4 linked regions of the Homo sapiens genome follow. The protein of the gene in region 4 purifies or fractionates together with the protein of the main gene of each other region. This does not show direct contact. Each region holds a gene or a part of one and is shown on either strand. Other genes may lie near its edges.

The links.
Region 1: the proteins of MPST (region 4) and PEDS1 fractionate together in Homo sapiens (co-fractionation; one large-scale study listed by BioGRID). This does not show direct contact.
Region 2: the proteins of MPST (region 4) and C1orf198 fractionate together in Homo sapiens (co-fractionation; one large-scale study listed by BioGRID). This does not show direct contact.
Region 3: the proteins of MPST (region 4) and ACO2 fractionate together in Homo sapiens (co-fractionation; one large-scale study listed by BioGRID). This does not show direct contact.

Annotation. Positions count from the first base shown.
Region 1 is NC_000020.11:50,147,224-50,150,723, reverse strand, and holds part of PEDS1 (plasmanylethanolamine desaturase 1), read left to right. Parts: intron 1-3,500. UniProt on the Homo sapiens protein: Plasmanylethanolamine desaturase involved in plasmalogen biogenesis in the endoplasmic reticulum membrane.
Region 2 is NC_000001.11:230,865,722-230,869,983, reverse strand, and holds the start of C1orf198 (uncharacterized protein C1orf198), read left to right. Parts: upstream 1-1,462; 5' UTR 1,463-1,471; coding exon 1,472-1,804; exon of another isoform or gene 1,805-2,180; coding exon of another isoform or gene 2,181-2,186; intron 2,187-4,262.
Region 3 is NC_000022.11:41,475,617-41,479,116, forward strand, and holds part of ACO2 (aconitate hydratase, mitochondrial precursor), read left to right. Parts: intron 1-3,500. UniProt on the Homo sapiens protein: Catalyzes the isomerization of citrate to isocitrate via cis-aconitate.
Region 4 is NC_000022.11:37,026,242-37,029,741, forward strand, and holds part of MPST (3-mercaptopyruvate sulfurtransferase), read left to right. Parts: intron 1-757; coding exon of another isoform or gene 758-816; exon of another isoform or gene 817-858; intron 859-2,974; coding exon 2,975-3,273; 3' UTR 3,274-3,500. UniProt on the Homo sapiens protein: Transfer of a sulfur ion to cyanide or to other thiol compounds. Also has weak rhodanese activity. Detoxifies cyanide and is required for thiosulfate biosynthesis. Acts as an antioxidant.

The sequences.
Region 1 (3,500 bases), on a different chromosome or scaffold from region 4:
GAGACTCTGTCTCAAAAAAAAAGAAAAAGAAAAAAACGGAGCTGGCATTTTAGTAAATAGCCGGGCCATAAACTTGACAAATAACTGTCTCACGTGCCCAGTGGTGGCAAGCGCTGTGGAGCAAATACATAGCAGGAGAGGGGGATCTGAAATGTTGGGGACAGGAATGACATTTTAGGGAGGGGGCAGTGAAGGCTTCCCTGAGCAGGTGACATTCGAAGTGAGGCCTGAAGGGAGGAAGGACTGGAGGGAGGGAGCCTTGAGGATATTTGAAGAAGGGTTGGTCCAGACCAGGGAAACAACAAATGCAGAGACCCTGAGGTGGGAGCTTGCCAGGCATGTTTAGGGAATATGGAGGACACATGTAGGCTGGAGGGAAGAGTAGAAGAAGTTCCTGGGTTCTAGGAGCAGAATGTTTGAGATTACTGGGGCTGGAGGTGGTTTGGCACTGTGACAGTTGACAGCCATAATCATGGCAATCAACATAGCCGAGTGATTGAGCCTCACTGTGCTGGCATTTTCCTCACCTGCTCTCCGTGCATCCCCACTACAACCGTGTGAGCTGTACCTTGATATTAACTGCATTCACAGAGGAGGAGGCTGCAACCCCTCCCAACCCCCACCCCAGGCATGCTCTTCCTAAAGCTCACCCTGATCGGGGTTAGGCCCGCATCTGCCCTCACCTGATGGGAAGGCCAGCAGGACAGGGACTGAACCTATTTGGTTTGATTAAAGTGCTTGGCCCCTCATGAGCACCCAGTCCACTTTTGTTGGAACATTTCCTGAGGCTTAGAAAATGGGAGAGGCTGCCTGAGGTCATACGGCGGGGCACCGGGCAGCAGTAGGGCTAGGCCTGGAACCCGGGACTGGGCCGGGTGGGGGTGCGCTAGGTTCTGTGTTCTTACTCTTCACTATGGAAGTCAGCCAGCCAGGGGTGAGTGTGTGGGAGGTGGGGGCGAGTATTCCGGATCATCAGAACAGCATGTGTGCAGGGCAGGTGGCAGAGAATGGGCCTCTGTGTGTAGGGAGCTGTGAGTAGTTGGACCAGAGCAGCATGGGGCTGAGGGAATGGTGACAGGTGCAGCAGGGAGGCGGCCACAGCCTGATTTCGCAGGCCCCAAGTGTCTGGCCCAGAGGTTGAGCCCTGGTCCTGCAGGACCCAGGAGCCGTTCTGTCCTGTTCTGGGCTGAGTTTCCCAGCAGCAGCCCACCTCATGCCAGATGTCAGGGTTTGTGAAGGGCCTGGCCAGCTTGGCAGGCCAGAGGGTGAGGCGGGTGTCCAGCTTCCCAGGAGGTCCCAGCTGAAATCTGGCCATGTGTGTGCTACTTCTCAGGTGCCCCAGGCTTCATGGGTGCAGCCTCACGGTCCTTGATCCACCTGTACCCCACCCAGGCCAACTGTGGGTGCCCCCTGCCCTGGGGATTACAGAGGCTCTTGGCACAGGGGGAAGGGAAAGGTGGAGGGTGTCAGGAGTACTGGGTGAGAGTCCTGGCCTGTACTCCCAAAGCTGAACCCAGGGGTTCAGTCCCCCAGATGGGCTTTCTGTTTTTTGCTCCTTTTGTCTCTGTTTCTCATCTTTGTTTCTTTCGGTTTTTTTGTTTGTTTGTTTTTGAGACAAGGTTTTGCTCTGTTACCTAGGCTGGAGTGTGATGGAGCGATTGCAGCTCACTGCAACCCAAAACTTCTGAGCTCAAATGATCCTCCCGCCTCAGCCTCCAAAGTGCCGAGATTGCAGGTGTGAGCCACCACGCCCAGCTAATTTTTATTTTTATTTTTGTAGAGGCAGGATCTAGTTATGTTGCCCAGGCTGGTCTCCAACTCCTGACCTCAAGTGATCCTCCTACCTTTGCCTCCTAAAGTGCTGGGATTACAGGCATGAGCCGCGGCACTCAGCCTGTTTCTCATCTTCCCATGGCTCTGATTCCTTATTTGTCTCTCATCTCTTATTTGTCCCTCTGTCCATCTCTCATCCCCACCTTCTCTCTACCTCTTGTCCCCCATCTCCCTGAGGCTGAGGGTCTGCTGGAGGCCAGGGGTCCTCAGAAGTCCAGCTTATTTGGGGCTTGTCTCTGCCTGGAACCAGAAGAGTTGGGCCCACCAAGCCTTTGACTGCAGCCTGTCCCCTGGAAAGCAGGATGACAAAGGCATGACCCCAGGCCTCCCCTGCTCTTCCTAGCTCCCCATACCTACCACACGAGGCCAGCCCCTTCCTCAGGCCAATAAGTGGCTACTGCTTTTGGCTCAGATCTTCAAACCCTGCCAAGCCAGGGGCTGGCTCTGATAGCAGGACCTCAGCACTACAGCCAGAAGACAGCCCGGGCCTCCTGTGTCCTGAGCAGCCACCCTCCCTGTCCCCACCTCAGTCTGCTCATCTGTTAAGTGATACAGTTTAGGCCAGTTGACCCCACAGGCCCTGCCAGGCTGATGATCCATGCTGTGACTTTGGTGACCCTCAAGTGACTTTGGACAAGTGCCTTGACCTCTCCAGGCCCAGCTTCTCTCTCTGAAGGATGGGACAGAGGGTCCCTAGCTCCAGGAGGTGGTGAGGGGTGCTGAGATCATCTTAGCCCTGTATCTGGCATGTTCCAGTTGCTCAGTGAAAGCTACTTAAGTTGTGTATGTTTTCTCCCCCTGGAGACGGAGTCTTGCTCTGTCGCCCAGGCTGGAGTACAGTGGCACGATCTCGGCTCACTGCAACCTCTGCCTCCTGGGTTCACGTGATTCTCCTGCCTCAGCCTCCCGAGTAGCTAGGAGATTACAGGTGCACCCTCCCGAGTAGCTAGGAGATTACAGGTGCACACCACCACACCTGGCTAATTTTTGTATTCTTAGAGACGGGGTTTCACCATGTTCATGTTAGCCAGGCTGATCTCGAACTCTTGACCTCGTGATCTGCCCACCTCGGCCTCCCAAAATGCTGGGATTACAGGCATGAGCCACCACACCCGGCCATTGTGTATGCATTCTTTATGGATGAGAATTAAGGTATTTGGTCTGCAGAAGGATCCAGCTTCCAGAGGCCAAAGAGAGATGGAGTTTAGATGGAAAAATATTCAGATTTGGAGGACGTTCTCCATGGCGTGGGGAGAGAGCTGGATCATCTTTGGTTTCAGGACTGCCCCGAACGTCCAGGCTAACATGTCTCATTGATGTGTCTGGGATCCAAACCCAGCTCTGAACCTCAGTTTCCTTGTCTAGGAAATGAGATCACTCAGTTCCTTCCTTGACGGGCTGATACTTGAATGAGAGACTGTGCCTCAGACTCAAAAACTCAGATGACTGCAGGGGCCCAGCCAGGGCTGCCACCAAATCTGGCCACCCAGTGTGAGACCCCAGGGAAGGGAGAGGACCAGGGTGAACCTGGAGCTCATATCCCATTGGATGGGGGCAGCTATTACTTATTGTTTAGGCCTAGGGTGGCCAGAGCCCTGTGTTGTTGAGGGAAGCAGGAAACTAGGAATTTTACGTGATTTTCAAATTTAGCTCACTTTTTAAAACTG
Region 2 (4,262 bases), on a different chromosome or scaffold from region 4:
TATCAAAGCAAGCCTGGGGATGTTAATTAATTTCAAGAATATATCTTTAAACATTACCTATATTATTAAACAAGGATTAGAGGAGAGAAATCAGTGGGATTCAGGTCAATGTATTGAGCTTCTCTAGCATCAACTCAAACAGAAGATCATACTCCAAAAAACTGTCCTTAAACTTCCGGTCTCATAAATAATCCGCCACTTACTGTGGAGACTATATTTGGTGGTGCTTGCCTTTCCCTGCTTCAATATATTATGTTGTGAACATTGTTGATAATAATGTCTTTAACTGTAGAGCCTGCCACATTCATGACATTCCAAAAATATTCTGAGGATTTCTGGGCCGGAAGATGAGGCCATCTCACATTTAAAATAGGACTTTGCAAGTTATTTCTACTTTTGTGTTCAGAACTATCCAGGCAAAGACCCTGGATAACAGCTGAAATGCTGGTTTTTGTTTTTGTTTTTTTATTTTACGAGTGGACACAATTCTCACCTGAGTCCTGTTAGTCTTGTTAAAATCAGTCAGATGGAGAGAGGGGCTTGGGGGAAGTGGGGGCTCGCTATAATTTTAATTTTGTGGTCTGTCTGGGACACACCTCAAAATTACAAACCCTGGCCCCCTACCTGTTGGGATGTCGCCTCTGAGTCTGAAAACTTTCTGCTCCTCTTTGGTTTGTTTGCAAACGTCGAACTGCCAAGAGTTCTGAGCTCCTTGGGTTGGGGAAAGGCACCTGGGCCACCGGGTACTTCATGCACCCACCTGGCCCCGAGGGGCGGCGGGAGCTGACTTTCCTTGAGCACCAGATGCCCCGAACCGGTCCAGCCTTCCAGGTCGCCCTCCAGCCTCCGGGCTGCCCTGCGCCCCCGGCTATCTGCAGCTCACCGCGCCAGGCCCCGGGCCCAGCGTCCTGGACGGGCCCAGAGAAAGCAGAGAAGGTGTGGCTCGTCCCAGAAAGGGACAGAAGGAAAGGAGTAAAAACAGAAGCCAGGCAGCCAGCGGCTTGGCCTGAAATGCTGGGGCTTTCTTAGGCTCACTGGAGGTTGAAAAAAGTTTCCTTTGTCAAGCAGTGGCCACGTGGCGCTATGGCGGTCACTACCGGGAATTAACCACGGCCACCCTCTCAGAGCGCCGGGCGCGGACTCAGGGACACGCCGGCTACCACCTGAGCCGGGTAAGGGGAGCCCGAAACCTGCGGGCACCGCGGTAATCCACTATGGAGGCGTAAAGGGGGACTCGTGGGGTCCGCGAGGGGGTGGCGGGGGGGGGCCCGGAGGGAGGAGCTCCCGGGGAGGGGGCCACGGAGGGCCGGGGTCCCGGGGCTTGGGGAGCTGGGTTGGCTTGGAGACCCGGGTACGCGGCGGTGCAGGGCGGGGTTCCCGGAGGGGGCGGGGCTCCGGGTGGCGCGGGGCGGGGCGAGGGCGGGCACAGCGAGGGGCGGGGCGCGGGCCGGGAGCGGCGGGCAGGCCGGGCATGGCGTCCATGGCGGCGGCGATCGCGGCTTCGCGCTCGGCGGTCATGAGCGGGAACCGGCCTCTGGACGACCGGGAGCGAAAGCGCTTCACTTACTTCTCGTCGCTGAGCCCCATGGCCAGGAAGATCATGCAGGACAAGGAGAAGATCCGCGAGAAGTACGGGCCCGAGTGGGCGCGGCTGCCGCCCGCGCAGCAGGACGAGATCATCGACCGGTGCCTGGTGGGGCCGCGCGCCCCGGCGCCCCGAGACCCCGGGGACTCGGAGGAGCTCACGCGCTTCCCCGGCTTGCGCGGGCCCACGGGCCAGAAGGTGGTGCGCTTCGGGGACGAGGTAGGTGCGGGCCTGGCCGCGGACCCTCTTCCCCTCCCGGCGCCCCGAGGCGCCCCGGCCCGGTGGGCACCTGCCGGCGTGAGGCCGCCCCAGCTGGTAGGGGCTGGAAAAGAAAAGGCAGGAATGGCAGTGGGTGGGAGGGGAGCCCCAGAGCCGAAGTTCGGGGGGTGGGGGCTCCGCTGGGGGAGTTGGTTAAGAGATCGCCGAGAGGTGGGTCGTTAAAGAACCTCCATCTAGACCTGATCCGCCGGCTCGCACGGACTCCAGAGACTTCTCCCGGAGCTGTCGTAAGCGAGGCTGACCAAAGTGGAAACAACAAGCAATTTTAAACCAGACAAGCCTGGGTTTTAATCCAGCTCTGCTACTTACTACCTGTATGGCGGTGGGTCAATTAACTTCTTAGAGCCTCAGTTTCCACTGTGTAAAACGGGGGTAATAACGCCACCCCGTGCCTGCCCGTGAAGGGACTGAGCAAATGATATATACTAACATGAATACTTGTGATGAGATGTATGGGGAAAGTAAAATTGCCAAGCCAGGTAACAAGGAAGAAAAGGTGTCTTCCAAGATAAGGAGGGAAACCCATCCATCACCCTAAGATGTTTTCCAAGTGAGCACAATGCCCAGCGTATGTTTTAAGGGTGAGCATGGTGGCCCTGTTTTCCACCAAAAAACTAAGGGACGATAAGTTTAAATGAGCTCCAGTAAGTCTTGGCCACATAACAGGGCATGTTTAGGTCTCAGATCTAGACACTGTCCAGACTGCTAGAGGGACAGTCATTTGTGAAGGTAGAAACGCTGAATCTGTTCCAGAAAAAGCTCAGGGATGACCCACACTTAGTCACAAACGCCTGAATCTTCTGTAGGGTTCAGAAACTTGGTCTTCTTTTTCTTAGAAATGTGTTTAACCGAAGCCTGTTTGGTGCCATTAGAATTTGCACTGTGACTCTTTGGCGTTTCAAACTCAACTTTTGCCGTGAGGAGCAAAGTCAAGCTGAGCAAAGAGTGTAGGAATGAAATCGCTCGCTGTTAAGGCTGTTTCTTGGGCTAGAGGAAGGAGAAGCTGGGAGAGATTTTTTCCGAGGAAGTTGTGGATTGTGGATGGAATTCAAGTTAAGGAGGTTTAGATCAGATTTTCAGGCTTGGGTGTGCTGAGACATTTATTAATACGAAGTGTTCATGGTCATAAACCCACTTTAATGTGAGGGAAAAGTGAAATGACTGAAGGATGCTGCCAGTGTTTCTTTATTCTGATGGAATCAAAAGGAAATTCTCTACTGGACTTCAAATTCTGATGGCTTTGCCAGGAAAAACAAGGGTGTGGTAAACTGGGGAGGGGAAAATATAGGTTTTAAAATGTATTCCTAGAGCTGAAACATTTTCAGTGGGAAAATAGGCGTATTTATAAAGACTTGTGTGCAGTGTTTGCGCCCAGATTTGGGGGATGAAAAAGCAGGCAGCACTCCTTTGGAAGAGTCACGAATAAATATGACAGGAAGTAAACTTCTAAGTACTTACAAATGTTGGAGAGTGACTGTCATTTTCCCTTAGCTTGGTGTCCAGCTAAGAATATCTACACGCCTACTCATGATGAAAAAGCCCATGTCATAGAAGAGCCCAGTATTACTGACAAGGAAGAATGTGGCCAAGTTAATTTTTTATTCTCATTCCTCATCTGGTGCCAGACTGAGCCGTTTCTGAATTTGTAAACTCAATGTGATTTAAAAGCAAGTGGAACTGTGCCGTGCTGTGGTGCCTGTATGTCCTTCCAGGAGTAACTCAGGAGAATTGAATCTCAGCTTTGCAAAACCAGCTGAGAGCATGTTCTGAAATGCCTCTGACCAGCCTCAGCTCAGACAGCAGAGGGGCAGATAGACCCTGAATTTTAACAGAGGTACATAGGAACATGGCCCAGGGTACATTTTTGCCTGCAGTGTCTGCGTAGGTTAATAGCAGTAGGGAATTTAAATTCCCCTGGACTGCGCCAGAGGTAGGCACCAAAGTGGAGTCAGTTGTCTCATTGTTGTCCCCAGGAGATCATTCATGGAGGAGGGCCAGCTCCTGGGCACAGGGATGATGGATAAGGACAGGATAGGCTGCTGAACAGAGGTACCCCCAAATAGGTGACCCCAAGTTTGTCCTAAAGGACTGTAAACTAGATAGAGTGGGGCCCAATGTCTCTTCCCACTTGATCAGTCTTCTGATGTGGTCCTGGGGCCTCCACAGCCCTTTCCGCTGCCCTGAAGGACACTGCCTATTTCTTTGAATGGTATCCTCTCCCCCATTGCCAGTAATGTTTTTCTATCTCACATAGCAACGTTTTAAGTCAGAGCATGCAAATACAGCCTCCAAATGTGGTGATCATCTTCTAGACATTTCTTGTGTATTGCAGGAACAAATAGAAATTGATTATATGATGCTGATCACAGATCTTGGTGGTTTTGAATGTGGTCAGGGG
Region 3 (3,500 bases), 4.4 Mb from region 4:
GGACGTGGTGGCTCACGCCTGTAATCCCAGCACTTTGGGAGGCTGAGGTGGGTGGATCACAAGCTCAGGAGTTCGAGACCAGCCTGGCCAATATGGTGAAACCCCATCTTTACTAAAAATACAAAAAAAAAATTAGCCAGTCGTGGTGGCGCATGCCTGTGATCCCAGCTACTCAGGAGGCTGAGGCAGGAGAATCAGCTGAACCCAGGAGGTGGAGGTTGCAGTGAGCCGAGATCGCGCCACTGCACTCCAGCCTGGGCAACAGGGTGAAACTCTGTCTCAAAAAAAAAAAAAAAAGCAGCAGATGGACCCTCAGGAGCCTTAGGAGACTTCTGCCACTGGCTTACTGGGTAGCTTCGGGCAAAGTCTCAACTCTCTGTGGTCCTGCAGTTAGTTACACATCTGCAAAACAGTGTAATTAATAACTACCCTTCAGTTAAGAAGGGTTCTGAAGGCCTAATATTTGAAAAGTTGTTTTGACTCTGTTTGATGTGTTATAAAGCATTGTGAGCCGGGTGTGGTGCCTCATGCCTGTAATCCCAGCACTTTGGGAGCCCAAGGCAGGTGGATCACCTGAGGTCAGGAGCTCAAGACCAGCCTGACCAACATGGTGAAACCCCGTCTGTACTTAAAATACAAAATTAGTCAGGTGTGGTGGCGCATGCCTGTAATCTCAGTTACTTTGTGGGCTAAGACAGGAGAATCGTTTGAACCTGGGAGGCGGAGGTTGTACTGAGTTAAGATTGTGCCATTGCACTCCAGCCTGGGCAACAAGAATGAAACTCTGTCTTAAAAAAAAAAAAAAAAAAGGCCAGACGCAGTGGCTCACACCTGTAATCCCAGCATTTTGGGAGGCCAAGGCAGGCAGATCACCTGAGGTCAGGAGTTTGAGACCAGCCTGACCAACATGGTGAAACTCCATCTCTACTAAAAATAGAAAAAAATTAGCTGGGTGTGTGGGTGGTCGCCTGTAGACCCAGCTACTCGGGAGGCTGAGGTACGAGAATCGCTTGAACCTGGGAGGCAGAGCTTGCAATGAGCCGAGATTGCGCCACTGTACTCCAGCTTGGGCAACAGAGCGAGACTCTGTCTCAAAAACAAAACAAAACAAAAAAACAAAAAAACACACACACTGCAAATAGTTTCTGATATTATTTTAGGAATAGGCCATTTCTAAGATTGAGAGTAGGGACAGATTTTCCCCTTGTAGAATATCTTCATTTTGGAAGTCTTGAAAGGTAGGGAGAATGGGCCAGGCATGGTAGCTCACGGCTGTAATCCCAGGACTTTGGGAGGCCGAGGTGGGTGGATCACTTGGGGTCAGGAGTTCAAGACCAGCCTGGCCAACATGGTGAAACTCTGTCTCTACTAAAATACAAAAAATTAACTGGGCATGGTGGCGTGTACCTGTAATCCCATTTACTTGGGAGACTGAGGCAGGAGAATCAGGTTCAAGCGAGTCTCCTGCCTCAGCCTCCCAAGTAAATTAAAGGTAGGGAGAATGGTTTCCATATTATTTATTTATTTATTTATTTATTTATTTATTTATTTTTTTGAGACGGAGTCTGGCTCTGTCTCCCAGGCTGGAGTGCAGTGGCGCGATCTCCACTCAGTTCAAGCTCCGCCTCCCGGGTTCACGCCATTCTCCTGCCTCAGCCTCCTGCGTAGCTGGGACTACAGGCACCCGCCACCACGCCCAGCTAATTTTTTGTATTTTTTTTTTTAGTAGAGATGGGGTTTCACGGTGTTAGCCAGGATGGTCTCAATCTCCTGACCTTGTGATCCACCTGCCTCGGCCTCCCAAAGTGCTGGGATTACAGGCGTGAGCCACCGCACCCGACCTCTTTAGTTTTATTCTGCAGCACCTGGGCCAGAGGAAGGGGCACCAGCTTTGGAGCCAGGCCTGGAATTCCACCTTGCTGCGTGACCCTGGGCAAAACAGTTAGCATTCCAGAGCTTCAGTTTCCTCATCCATTAAATGGGCACAATGCCTTCTGCCTCACAGGGTAGTCGTGGGATTGTGTGGATAAAGTACTTGGGGCAAATCCAGTGCAGGGTAGAGGCACTTGGTGAATATTCATTTCTGTCTCCAGCCCCTGCAGATGGCCCGCGGCATCCATCACCCCAGCCTTTATCCTTAGCTCATACGTTTAAAAAAGACCAGTTGTGGCCGGGCACAGTGGCTCACGCCTGTAATCCCAGCACTTTGGGAGGCCGAGATGGGTGGATCACGAGGTCAGGAGTTTGAGAACAGTGTGGCCAATGTAGTGAAACCCCGTCTCTACTAAAAATACAGATATGAGCCGGGCATGGTGGTGTGCGCCTGTAGTCCCAGCTACTTGGGAGGCTGAGGCAGAAGAATCGCTTGAACTCAGGAAGCAGAGGATGCAGTGAGCCGAGATCACGCTGCTGCACTCCAGCCTGGGCAACAGAGCGAGACTCTGTCTCAAAAAAAAAACCAAACCAGTTGTGAAAATTGCTTGTTCCTCCCATCATCTCCCCAGATAGCAGGTAAGTGGTAGTTGTTCAAGGAAACCTTTTTTTCAAGATAGAGTCTCGCTCTGTTGCTCAGTCTGGATGCAGTGGCATGATCTCACTGCAACCTCCACCTCCTGGGTTCAAGCAGTTCTTTTGCCCCAGCCTCCCAAGTAGCTGGGATCACAGGCACGCACCACCATGCCCAGCTAATTTTTGTATTTTTTGTTTTAGTAGAGACAGGGTCTCACCCTGTTGGCAAAGCTGGTCTCCAACTCCTGACCTCAAGTGGTCCAGCTGCCCCAGCTTCCCAAAATATTGAGATTACAGGCGTGAGCCACTGCGCCTGGCCAAGAAAACCCTTTCAATACTGTTTTAAAAGAGTTGGGGGAAGAGGTAGAAATGAATCTTTTGGTTTAGTTTTTTAATTCTCTAAGGACAACATTGGGGAAGTGAGCTTTAGAGTTATATTTGCAGTATTTATTTTTATCATGAAATATTCAAGTCTAGGCCCTTGGTGAATTGAGGCCTGGTGAGTATTTCTGCTTTCCCCCTGGAGAGATTGAGATGGTTTCTGATTGGGAGCTTTAATTCTGTGGGCATTTGTGGGACTTACCAAAGAGGTATCTAGAGTTCCTTTAAAACCCCCGCCCTGTCCCTGCCACATATCTTCTTTTTTTTTTTTTTTTTTTTGAGAAGGAGTCTCACTCTGTAGCCCAAGCTGGAGTGCAGTGAGTGACACGATCTCTGCTCACTGCAACCTTTGCCTCTGGGGCTCAAGCAATTCTCCTGCCTCAGCCTCCCAAGTAGCTGGGACCAGAGGCATGCGCCACCACACCTGGTTAATTTTCTTGTATGCCACACTTCTTTAGTTCCTTGTAGCCGGGCTCCTTGACCTTCTGCAGGGCATCTGTGGTTGTGGTATTTATAAGCACTCACTGTGTCATGAGTGTGTTCACAGAGCTCTAAGACAAGGGCCCTGTCTGTGGAAGAGCTTTTAGGGTGGTGAGGGAGAAGTCATCTAA
Region 4 (3,500 bases):
GGTCATCTAATGTCTCTGAACTGCAGCTTCTGCCTATGTAGAATGGGAGCAGTAACACAGAGCATAAAGACATGATAGGGGCAAGGAGAGCAAGTGTGTAAAGCACTCAGCTCCGGGTTTTCATGCACAAGTGTGCTGCACACTTGTGCCTGACACTTATTCAGTCGCACTAGCTCATCTATAGAATGGGAGGTGATACACGCCTAGCAGGCTTGTTGTCAAAACAAACTAAGCTCACTGCAGCTGGATCAGTGATGAATGTCACTGTCGTCATCATTCCCACTCCACAGCCTGAGGCCTGGCCAAGTGCTCCTGTGATGTGCCACACCAGTCCAGCAGGCAGGGGAAACATGCTTTGCTTGGTGGGATTCAAGGTGTAGGGATGGCCCTCCCTTTACAGTCACCACCCTGGGTTGAGAGTTTGTTCCTCCTCCTTGCTCTGGGCTGGTCTCTATGTGATATCTGACCAAGCCCGGTAACTGTGTCTGTTAGGTGGGATGCATGACCCATTCCAGCCTCTCCACAGACTCGGGAGTGCTGTCTCTATGCCAGGGTCTGAGAATAGATACCGATACATGGGTCAGCAGCTCCTGTGGGGGTGTCACTCCACTGCGGAGGGAAACCAAGGCAGAAGCTGGACAAGAGTCTGAATGGCTCAGATTTGAATCATTCGTTTTTGGGGGGTTTTTTGTTTGTGTTTGTTTCTGTTGTTGTTGTTGTTATTGTTTTGAGACGGAGTTTTGCTCTTGTTTCCCAGCTGGAGTACAGTGGCGCAATCTCGGCTCACCACAACCTCCGCCTCCCGGGTTCAAGTGATTCTCCTGCCTTAGCCTCCCGAGTAGCTGGGATTACAGGCATGTGCCACCACGCCCGGCTAATGTTTGTATTATTAGTAGAGACGGGGTTTCTCCATGTTGGTCAGGCTGGTCTCGAACTCCCAACCTCAGGTAATCTGCCCCCCTCGGCCTCCCAAAGTGCTGGGATTACAGGCGTGAGCCACCGTGCCCAGCCCAAGCGTTAGTTGTGAAGGTTTATTTTGTTGCAAATCCCAGTCCTGCATGAAAATGGGAATGTTAGTAACCCCTGCCTCAAGGTGGGGCAGTGAAAACAAAAAACACCCTGGGAGTCTGCAGAGGTGTGGGCCTTTCCCATCCCATTCTTTCTGCTACAATCAAAATGATCGTTTAAAAATGGAAATCTAGGTTGGGCAAGGTAACTCCTACCTATAATCCTCACACTTTGGAAGGCTGAGGTGGGAGGATCCCTTGAGCCCAGGAGTTCAAGACCATCCTGGACATGATGGCAAGCCCCTTCTCAATAAAAAAAATTAAAAGTAACAGTAAAAAAGTAAACGCAGAAGCCTGAGTTCCCCCTGCAGTCAGGTCAAAGCCCCCAAGTCTTACTCCAGGCCTGCTAAGGCGTTCCCATCCCCTTCAGCTTCCCCTTTGGGCCTCTGGCTTCTCACTGTCTGGGCTTTCGTGACAATGACCTTTAACCCCTCCGGGCAACAGGTGGTTCCCTCGCCTTTCAGATTCCCTCTGCCTGGGATGCTCTAGGCCTCCATCCACCCAGACCCCTTTATGTGACTGAATCCTACTCATCCTTCGGGGCATTCTCAGAGAAACTTCCTCCACCCACTGAGCCCCCAGCCAGTGTGGCGTGAAGGTGGGAAGCATAGACTTGCCTGGGTTTACTCCTCCCTGCCCTCTGCTAGCTTGCACAAGCTAGTCTTTGTACTTCATTCTCTTCATCTTTACAAAAGAGAGGATAATAATTTCTTTCCCAGAGAATTTTGGGGTGGATTCAAGGAGAAAGTATAGCTGACCGTCTCCAAACAGTGCCTGGCAGAAAGTAAGCATTCAATAACATCAGCTATTGGCCAGGCAAGGTGGCTTACTCCTATATTCCCAGCACTTTGGGAAGCTGAGGCAGAAGGATTACTTGAGGCCAGGAATTCAAGACCATCCTGAGCCACATACTGAGACCCCATGTCTATAAAAACCAAATTAGGCCAGGCGTGGTGGTTCACACCTGTAATCCCAGCACTTTGGGAGGCCAAGGCAGGTGGATCATCTGAGGTCAGGAGTTCGAGACCACCCTGGCCAATATGGTGAAACCCCGTCTCTACTAAAAATACAAAAATTAGCCAGGTGTGATGGGTGCCTGTAATCCCAGCTACTCAGGAGGCTGAGGCAGGAGAATCACTTGAACCCAGGAGGTGGAGGTTGCAGTAAGCCAAGATCATGCCACTGCACTCCAGCCTGGGCAACAAGAGCAAAACTCCATCTCAAAAAAAAAAAAAAGAACAAAAAAAGGAAATTAGCTGAGCATGGTGGCATGTGCCTGTAGTAGTCCCAGCCCCTCGGGGGGAAGCTGAGGCAGGAGGATTGCTTGAGCCCAGGAGGTTGAGGCTGCAGTGAGCCTTGATCATGCCACTGCACTTCAGCCTGGGCAACAGAATGAGACCCTGTCTCAGTAATAATAATATCAGCTATTGCTGTTACTGGCGTTATTTTTTTTTTACATGCCCCAGGCCACCCAGTAGGGCACTTTTGGAACACCCATTATGCTTGTAATTATTCAGTTGCCTGTCTGCCCTGCCAGATTAAAGCTCCTTGCCTGCAGGTACTGCACGTTCTAGCTAGGCAGGGGTCTTGTTTATTGCTTTGCTGTCCCTAGGGTGCATAGTCAGGAAACCTTGGGGCCCAGTTCTTAGGTTCAAAGTTCAGTCAGCAATTTGCTAGATGTGTTAGCCTCAGGTGGTACTTAACCTCAGCATCACCGTGTATAAAATGGGGGCTCCTCTAAACAGTGCTCAGGTTTTATGGTTGTGAGAATTAAATGAGATGGTGGATATAAAGGATTTAGCACCATGCTTGCATGGGATGCTCTCAATATCTCGAGCACCACAAATACGAGGTACCATTCATAGCATCCTTCTATTTGTCCCCTCCTCCCTGCTCCCCTGCTGTAGGCATTGAACCTGGCCACATCCCAGGTACCGTGAACATCCCCTTCACAGACTTCCTGAGCCAGGAGGGGCTGGAGAAGAGCCCTGAGGAGATCCGCCATCTGTTCCAGGAGAAGAAAGTGGACCTGTCTAAGCCACTGGTGGCCACGTGTGGCTCTGGCGTCACAGCCTGCCACGTGGCACTAGGGGCCTACCTCTGCGGCAAGCCAGACGTGCCCATCTACGATGGCTCCTGGGTGGAGTGGTACATGCGCGCCCGGCCCGAGGATGTCATCTCAGAGGGCCGGGGGAAGACCCACTGAAGCTGGGCAGGACACAGGCGAGCTCAGGTGATGCCGGCCACCAGCAATGCCTGGCCTGGTAGCTCCGCTTCTGCTTTCACCAAGAGAGTGTTTCTTCACTCAACTCAGGTGGCATTTGGGGTGACATCTCAAAGGCCAGGAATTCCGTTGACTTGTTGGCTGCCAGTAGGGGCGGGAGGAAAGGCGGAGGCGAGCCCTGGAGGAGGGAGGCCACAACTCCGAGCTGC